Linked DNA regions of Homo sapiens: all the other regions are linked to region 1. Evidence: fine-mapped expression QTL. A gene starts in region 1. Each other region holds a variant in brackets. All regions are shown on one strand. Distances are between the middles of the regions.

Region 1 (2,758 bases):
GAGGCAGAGGTTGCAGTGAGCCAAGATTGCGCCACTGCACTCCAGCTCGGGCAACAGAGCGAGACTCTGTCTCAAAACAAACAAACAAACAAAAAGTATTCTGACGTTCAAGCTGGCAATAGCAGAGCATTCCTGCTTTTCCATTTTCCAATCTAACTATCAGGCCCTTCTAAGTGCATGGCCCTGTGTGACTGCACAGACGGCACGTCCAGAATGCCGGCCCTGCCCATGCCCCTTTCCAGCTGGTGATGGCCCCACTCCCCTCTCCTGTCCTCAGCTGCTTTCTTAGACAGATCCTCGGAGCCTCCTGGCAGCAACCCAGCCCCAGCCACCTCCAGAAGTTTCCAGGGCCCTGTTCAGTAGGCACTCAGCACAGATTCCCCAAGGTCCTGGGGGAATCTTCACCCCAGGCCACCACTCACATCCTCCTCAAATCAATGCACAGTTATCGAGCCCCACCTGGCTAAGCCTTAGGAAGGGAGGACAAGTGGATAAACGATCACTGCCCTCCAGGAGTTCAGTTTATAGCAGAGCGAAGACTTGAACAAGAGCAGGACCGGACAAGAATCCTGTCAATTCAGAGAAAAATAATCACAGTTTATTAGGAAACTGAATTTCACAAAAGAGAGAGCATAAAGATGGGCTTTCGTGAATGGGCAAGATTTGATTAACCCGATGAGGAAAGGGGCATTCAAGGAAGAAGCCATGGCATGGGCAAAAACTTAGAGATAATAAAATGCATGGCACGTTCTAGAATCCTGAATTGTACAGTTTGGCTGAGGTGTGCAGATGGTAAAATAGTGGGAAAAAGCTGGAAGGAAAATGTACAGAGAAGAGCTACAAGGGTAATAGTGAAGTGTTTGTACTCCCTTAGTGGAAACACCGAGGGGACTTTAGGTCGTGATGTTTAGGTTATTTGGGAGCAAAGGGAGAAGACTTCCTCCCCTTGGCCCTCACAGCCTGCCCGAAGAGTGCAAAGCCTCACGCTTTTGCAAAACAGGCCGCACCTAGCCCAGATTCTGGAGCTGATTCAGTCCATGCCTCTCGACCCACAGTTTGTCCTGAGCCCTGACAAAGGTCTGGCCCCCTCCTGCACTCGGAACGCGGAGGACCCGCAGCTCGTGGATTCGCGCCTCAGTGCCCAAGCTGGTGTTGATGGGGGTTGCGGTTTCCTGCCACTCACTCCCCATGGGTCCTGTGGGGGGCGTGGGGATGCGGGGAGAGGGTTTCAGAATAGGATCCCGGACTGGGAGGGAAGGGACACCATCTGGGCACACCCAGTAGGTACGACCGGAGGTGAAAAAAGAGTGGGTCCCATCCCCTGATGGCCCCGCTCGCTATCCACTTTAAGTTTATGTTATGGATATTTTCAAACATATTCAAAAGTAGAGAGAAAAGTAGAATCATAACCCAAGTCCACACCGCCCAGCTTCAACAGTTATCCCCTCCAAGCCCATCTTGTTTCAGCTAACCCTCTCCCACCACCCATTTTAAAGCGGGATGTGGGTGTCCTGAGGGAGGTGGAGGCTCCCCAGTTGGAGAGCGGGTGCCCGCACCTCTGGAGGCTGAGGCACAACTGGGCTGGGAGTTGAGCGCATACCGAGTAGGGGCTGCGGGGGAGCGGGGGCAGGGCCGGCGGGGCGGGGCCAGAAGCCCGGCGGGGTTGGGGGCGCTCTCCTAGTGACTCAAGGCGCGCAGCGCTGGGCGCAAAGCGCCAGTCTCCGCCTTGCGAGCTCAGAGTGTGCCCGCTGCGCCGCCGCTGTCCGTACCTGCCGCCGCCGCCACCGCCACCATGCCCAACTTCGCCGGCACCTGGAAGATGCGCAGCAGCGAGAATTTCGACGAGCTGCTCAAGGCACTGGGTAAGCTGGTGCAGAGGGCGCGCCCCGACGGGGAGATGCGGCCCGGAGGTGCCCTGGTCCCGGAAGTGCCCCGGTCCTGGAGGGGGTGGAAGTTGGGGAGCCCAGGCAGGAGGGAGTCCCCGGGGCAATAGATCGCCTTGTCTCCCAGGCGCACCGGGTCTCGGAGAAGCTGGTAGAGATCCCGGAACCCACGCGTTCAGCGAACGTTTGCTGAATGTTTGGCGCCCTCCTCGATGGTGCGGACTTTATCTCGTGCTAGATCATAGCGAGGAGAGATTACTGGAGAGCAAGGAGGATCAGGGACTTAAATTTGGAGACTCAAATTTGGGACCAGGCTCTGCCACGAATTCACTGTGCAACTCGAGGAAAGTCACTTACCCTCTCTGTGCCTCAGTCTCTCATCTCGAAAACAAGGGCGAGGGCAGGGAAACGAGTGGATCAATTTTAAGGCCCCTTTCTAAAGTTAGGGTATGACCAGTGCCCGACCGGTCCCGAGACTGGCGGCGAGGCCCCGTGACCCAAGCCTGTGGTGCACCCTGCGCAGGTGTGAACGCCATGCTGAGGAAAGTGGCCGTAGCGGCTGCGTCCAAGCCGCACGTGGAGATCCGCCAGGACGGGGATCAGTTCTACATCAAGACATCCACCACGGTGCGCACCACTGAGATCAACTTCAAGGTCGGAGAAGGCTTTGAGGAGGAGACCGTGGACGGACGCAAGTGCAGGGTGAGGCCCCAGAGCCACTACAGCGTCCCCGTGTCCCCGCTCGGTGCCCATGGCCCACTGCTGCTGGAGGAACCTGTGTCTCCCTTTGCAGCCTGTGGCGCGCCTTCCTTGCAGGGTGTGTACACTGGCTGTTTGCAGAGGGGGTTTGTGCATCCTAGTTGCCCCTGGCTCAA
Region 2 (2,758 bases), 55 kb after region 1:
CATGAGCTGCTGTGCCCGGCCTGTCCTATTTGTTATTTTCTTCCTCCCAATTCCATGAGGGCGGGGACTTAGTCTTGTTCATTGAGGAAGGAAAGAAGGAAGGAAGGAAGGAAGAAAAGGGACTTCACAGGAGCTGTCTGCCTTTTCCCCATTGTATACACAAAGCAGTAAAGCCCAGAGAGTTTAAGTGACTTGGCCAAGACCATACAGCTATTCAGTAGAGGAGGATAATCTCTCCTGCTTAATTTCTAACGAACTTGTTCCCTGAGCACATCTTGCTTTTTCCAGCCCTTCCATGGGTTTTCTTACACATTGCCGTTATCTATAAGTACCTGCAATTCTCTCCTTTCCATCTCTAGTTGAAGGGATTCTATCCTCATTCTTACAGGCACAGCTACTCCAGGAAGCCGCCTTGGGTTCCCCAGTTGGGAGTGATCTTTGCCTCCTACACACTCCCAGTTCACTTTTTCTGCCTTATAAAGGCACTTAAAAGAGTCTGCCTCATATCTAGTTGTTTGTGTGCTAGGCTTGGTGCAACCCCAGGTTAAGGGCTACATTTTCCCAACTCAATATCCCCTGTTTGCACTAGCCCCAAGAAGGGAGTGGACATATATAATCAGAATCTCTTCAGCCTCAGTCCTCCCTCTTCCCTCAAAAAACATCCATTTATACCTGAGAGCTAAGAGACAAAGCAGGGCTCAATGACAGATTATTGACCCAATACATAAAAGAATAAATGGAGGCTGGGCCTGGTGGCTCACGCCTGTAATCCCAGTACTTTGGGAGACCAAAGTAGGCTGATCACTTGAGGTCAGAAGTTCGAGCCAGCCTGGCCAACATGATGAAACCTCATCTCCACTGAAAATACAGAAATTAGCTGGGCATAGTGGTGCACGCCTGAAGTCCCAGCTCCTCGGGAGGCTGAGACACAAGAATTGCTTGAACTCGAAAGGTGGAGGTTGCAGTGAGCCAAGATTGCATCACTGCACTCCAGCCTGGGTGACAGAGTGAGGTTCTGTCTCAAAAAAAAAAAAAAAAAAAAAAAAGAATAAATGGAGAGATGACTACCTCCTACCTGTCTCTACATTAATAAATGAAGAGCTGACTACCTCCTACCTGTCTCTACATTATTCATTCCTAAAGGGCAGGGTTAGTATGTGATACTTCTTTGAAGCTTCCCATAGTACCTGTTCTGGGTTGTAGGAGGTGTTCAGTCCCTCTTTATGGAAGGCATTAAGGAAGGAATGGTACAACAAGATGTCTAGATTCATTTCAAGTTTAATTCTGATAACGCGAACAAGTAGGAAAATAGTTGTTCCCTGAGAGCCCCGCCTTTTGCCCCACAGCCCCCACCCCAGTGAGAGGGTTAGGTCCAGGACAAATGCTCCGCCTCTGAGCCCAAGTGAGGCTGGCAGACCCACAGCAGGGACACCAGAGGATGAGACCGCGGCTCTAAAGGAGACTCCACCAGGGCCAACATTAACAAGGGGAAGATGGGAGGGGCAGTATGCAAACAGACCTTCTTGAGCCTCAGTCCTCCCACCTCCCTCCAAACAGTTCTAAACAATTCAAGCACC[C/T]GCTGACAGCTGAGATGGGAGAGGCAAACCCTGGATGGGGCTTCCAGCTTGGATTTCACATAATGAGGCTTTGGAATCCGGGAAGCGATTACAAGCCCACTGGGGAGGGACCACCTACAGGTTTTGGAACCTTTCACTGCTCTACCACATGTGGCTCAACATGTCCGACTCACCAGGAAGCAGCTCTTGGATGAGAAAGAGGAAAAACACAGACACCATAACAGCACGGTTTAGAAGTCAAGGGCTTAGGAATTCCGCGATGGAGACGGGATCACGGAAGCGTGGCCTAGGGTTGGAGGAACTATGTCCTTGTTTTCAGCATTCACCAAGAGCAGGGATTGAGGAGGGTCCAGAACCTACCCTAGCAACCCCACATGGTCACACAAGTCCCAGCCACCAGCCAGCATGTGTTTATTCAATTTTTTTTTCACTGACAAAAATTGTCAAAAATTGGACATGTTTATTGATTTTATTAGTAGCTATTTTCAAATCGTGGAGCTGGAAAGAACTTGGGTTTTACAACTGAGTGGTCTCATTTACAGATGACACCACCAAGGCAGAGAGAGGGAAGGTGGGTTCCCTGGGATCACACAGGCTGGGAGGGGTGCTCAACCAGGCCTAGGTTTCAGGTCCTCTCCCTGGTACCATCTGTTAGTCCACTCTGCTATTCTCACTCAAGTTAGAGCCAGGAAGGAACCAAACCAGCCTAGAATCCCATCCACTCATTTCTTTCTTTCTTTTCTTTTTCTTTTTTTTTGAGACAGAGTCTCACCCTGTTGCCCAGGCTAGAGCACAGTGGCGGGATCTCAGCTCAATGCAACCTCTGCCTCCCAGGTTCAAGCAGTTCTCCTGCTTCAGCCTCCTGAGTAGCTGGGACTGCAGGCATGCACCACCACACCTGGCTAATTTTTGCATTTTTAGTGGAGATGGGGTTTCGTCATGTTGGCCAGCCTGGTCTCGAACTCCCGACCTCAAGTGATCCACCTGCCTTGGCCCCTCAAACTGCTGGAATTACAGGTGTGAACTACTGTGCCCGGCCCAAATCACTCATTTATTGTCTGAAGAGCTGAGCCGTGTGAAGCCCAGCCCCTTGGAGGGTGCTGGGGTTGGATGGGGGTAACCAGTAAGACCCCTGCGTACTGGACACTGTGCTGGGTGCTTCACCACATCCTCTCACTTTC
Region 3 (2,758 bases), 32 kb after region 1:
ACCTGGTATTGTATACCATGGCCTCTCATGATCCAAAAGGCCCAATGTGAAGCTGGTATGATTTCAGGAACACCCAGAGTACCAGTACACCAAATCTTCATCCCTGTGTCTGAAGTTCCATCACCAGAGCTAACAATAACAAAGGCTTTTTTTTTTTTTTTTTTTTTGAGATGGAGTATCACCATGTTGCCCGGGCTAGAGTGCAGTGGCTATTCTCAAACACAATCATATTGTACCACAGACTTGAACTCCTGGCTCAAGTAATCATCCCGCTGCAGCCTCCCAGGTAACTAGGATTAGAGGTGCATGCACTGTGCCAGGCAATAATGGCAAACATTTAACGAGTGCTTGTTTGTGGTAACAAAAAAGCCTAGTAAAGGCTGTTGCCCTTCAGTAGAGAGGTTCTCAGCTCTGATTATTAATTAGAATTCTCTGAGAGTACTAAAAATACAGGCAGCAAAGTCCCATCCAGAAGTTTCTGGGTCAAAATCCCAGAGGTAGAACCTGGGTTTCTGTATCTTTCTTCGTTTTTGTTTTTGAGAAAGGGTCTTCTTCTGTCACCCAGGCTGTAGTGCAGTGGCATGATCGTGGCTCACTGCGGCCTTAACCTCCCAGGCTCAAGCAATCCTCCTGCTTTGGCCTCCTGAGTACCTGGGACCACAGGTGTGTGCCACCATGCCTGGCTAATTTTTTTATTTTTATTTTCTGTAGAGACAGGTTTTTCCATGTTGCCCACGCTGATCTCGAACTCCTGGGCTCAAGTGATCTGCCTGCTTTGGCCTCCCAAATTGCTGGTATTCTATATCTTTTAAGTGCTTCACAGATGATTTTAATGTGCCCAAAGTTGTGTCAAAGCATAATTTTCAAAAATTTAAAAGACATAACTCTTACACAAACATATAGTGAACACAAGTGAAAGATTTTTTTAACTCATGAATGAGGGAACCCAGCAGAATGGCAAAGCTGGTTCAAAGGAAGATATTAGAAATTGAAGTAAGGTCAGTGAAAAAAGAATGCTGGCTACTTAAGATGGCAAGTAAGAATGCTGGTTACTTAAGATAGCTAAGTAACATACAAAACTGGTTAATGTCCTGCAGGACAACCAAATCACAACCTTCAGGGTTATTTTTTTGAAGTATATAGAAATTAATTGCAACATCAATTTTCTACAGTTAACATCAGTTTTTACAAAGTCTGGCCACTAATCAAC[A/G]GTAAATAGTAAGTCAGACATACTCTAAGGAGACTTTTAAAGGGCACATAATACTCCTTTTGCTTTATTTCCTAGTTTTGGATAATTTCTCTGCGTTAGGGCAAGTGGTGGTCCCTGTTAAAATGCAGGTTCCCTTGGATCAGAAATGCTTCCCACTGATTTTAGGAGTCCATTCATGCCTTTATTAGTCTGATAGACATTCCTAGAGCACCTACTGAGCACAGGGCCCTCGGGGGGCTATGGTGATGAATAGGACACTGCTGCTGCCCTCACTTGTGGTATCTAGGAGAAGGGCACAGACACAGATAATCCACACATGAGCCAGCAGGTCTGTACAAAGTGAAGTGCCCTGGGATTTAAGAGAGAAAAAAAAAAAATCTATGGAAGGGGAAAAGGGGAAGGTGCCAGTGGACCTGGGCTTAAAAGAATGGTAATATTTCTTTCCTTTTTTTTTGTTGTTTTTTTTTGTTTTGTTTTTTTGAGACAGCCTCTCACTCTGTTGCCCAGGCTGGAGTGCAGTGGCGCGATCTCAGTTCACTACAACCTCCACCTCCTGGGTTCAAGCAATTCTTCTGATTCAGCCTCCTGAGTAGTTGGGATTACAGGTGCGTGCCACCAAACACAGCTAATTTTTGTATTTTTAGTAGAGACAGTTTCGCCATGTTGGCCAGGCTGGTCTCAAACTCCTGACCTCAAGTCATCTGCCCACCTCAGCCCCCCAAAGTGCTGGGATTACAGGCGTGAGCCACTGTGCATGTCCAGTATGGTAAGATTTCAATAGGAGAACATGGGAATGAAAAGCACTCTAGGGGGGAAGGCATGGGCAAAGCCTTAGAGGCAGGAAAGCAGCAAACATGTTTAGAGGAATGGTGAGCAGCCTAACTTGATGATGCAAAGAGCTTGCTTAGTGAGAGAATGAGGTAGGACAAATAGTCAAAAATGGGATCCCAGAGTAGCTTGAATGCCAAGCTAAGGGATCTGGACTTTATCCAGTTGAAAACCAACAACTCTTGCTGGTTTGGGGACACAGATGGGCATGTTTAGCTTGTGGAGAAGGGACTGGATGGGCCTACAGGGCATGGAGGGAAGAGTCCCCATGCCCCATGACAAGAGCTTTGAACATCTCTGGGTGCAACCTGACTTTCATTTGGATCCTGCCTTTCTCTCACCTGAATAGAAGCCCTTCAGGTTTATCCCCTTTGAAATGCACTGCAAGTTTTGAGACCAGCAGAGGCAGGGGTGGAGAAGGGCCTGTGGCATGTTGCCATAGGGTGTTTGGGAAGAGAGACCCCCTTCCTCTCAGGCTTCCAAGTGCTGGACCAGGTCCCAGAGAGGCCATCACCCTATCAGGTCTTCTCCCTCTCCCTCATATAGGAGGCACTGCTTTGCCAGCCCCGCCCCTCAGACACTCCTAGCCAAGCCATCCAGGGGCGGAGCATGGGATCTGAGAATGCCAATCTTGGAGTCAGGTCAGAGTTCAATTTTTTCTTTTTTTGAGACAGAATCTTGGTATGTTGCCCAGGCTGGAGGGCAGTGGTGCGATCTCGG

Direction of the effects. Alleles are on the strand shown, and positions count from the first base shown. SD is a standard deviation of normalised expression in the study named. Not every link is listed here.
In carriers of allele C in region 2, the expression in tibial nerve of the gene that starts at base 1,717 in region 1 tends to be higher than with T alone (small effect, 0.36 SD a copy in GTEx).

The links.
Region 2: its variant is fine-mapped to the expression of CRABP1 in tibial nerve (GTEx, PIP above 0.99).
Region 3: its variant is fine-mapped to the expression of CRABP1 in tibial nerve (GTEx, PIP above 0.99).

Annotation. Positions count from the first base shown.
Region 1 is chr15:78,338,637-78,341,394 of GRCh38, forward strand. It overlaps CRABP1 (cellular retinoic acid binding protein 1), which reads left to right and starts at 1,717. Exons shown (of 4, transcript NM_004378.3): 1 at 1,717-1,862; 2 at 2,407-2,585. The coding sequence starts at 1,793. RefSeq lists an enhancer at 1,267-1,895.
Region 2 is chr15:78,393,780-78,396,537 of GRCh38, forward strand. No RefSeq gene overlaps it. Among named protein-coding and RNA genes, the nearest start is that of IREB2, 43 kb to the right of the region's middle. RefSeq lists an enhancer at 1,798-2,298. The variant C/T (reference allele first, on the strand shown) is at 1,578.
Region 3 is chr15:78,370,453-78,373,210 of GRCh38, forward strand. No RefSeq gene overlaps it. Among named protein-coding and RNA genes, the nearest start is that of CRABP1, 31 kb to the left of the region's middle. The variant A/G (reference allele first, on the strand shown) is at 1,211.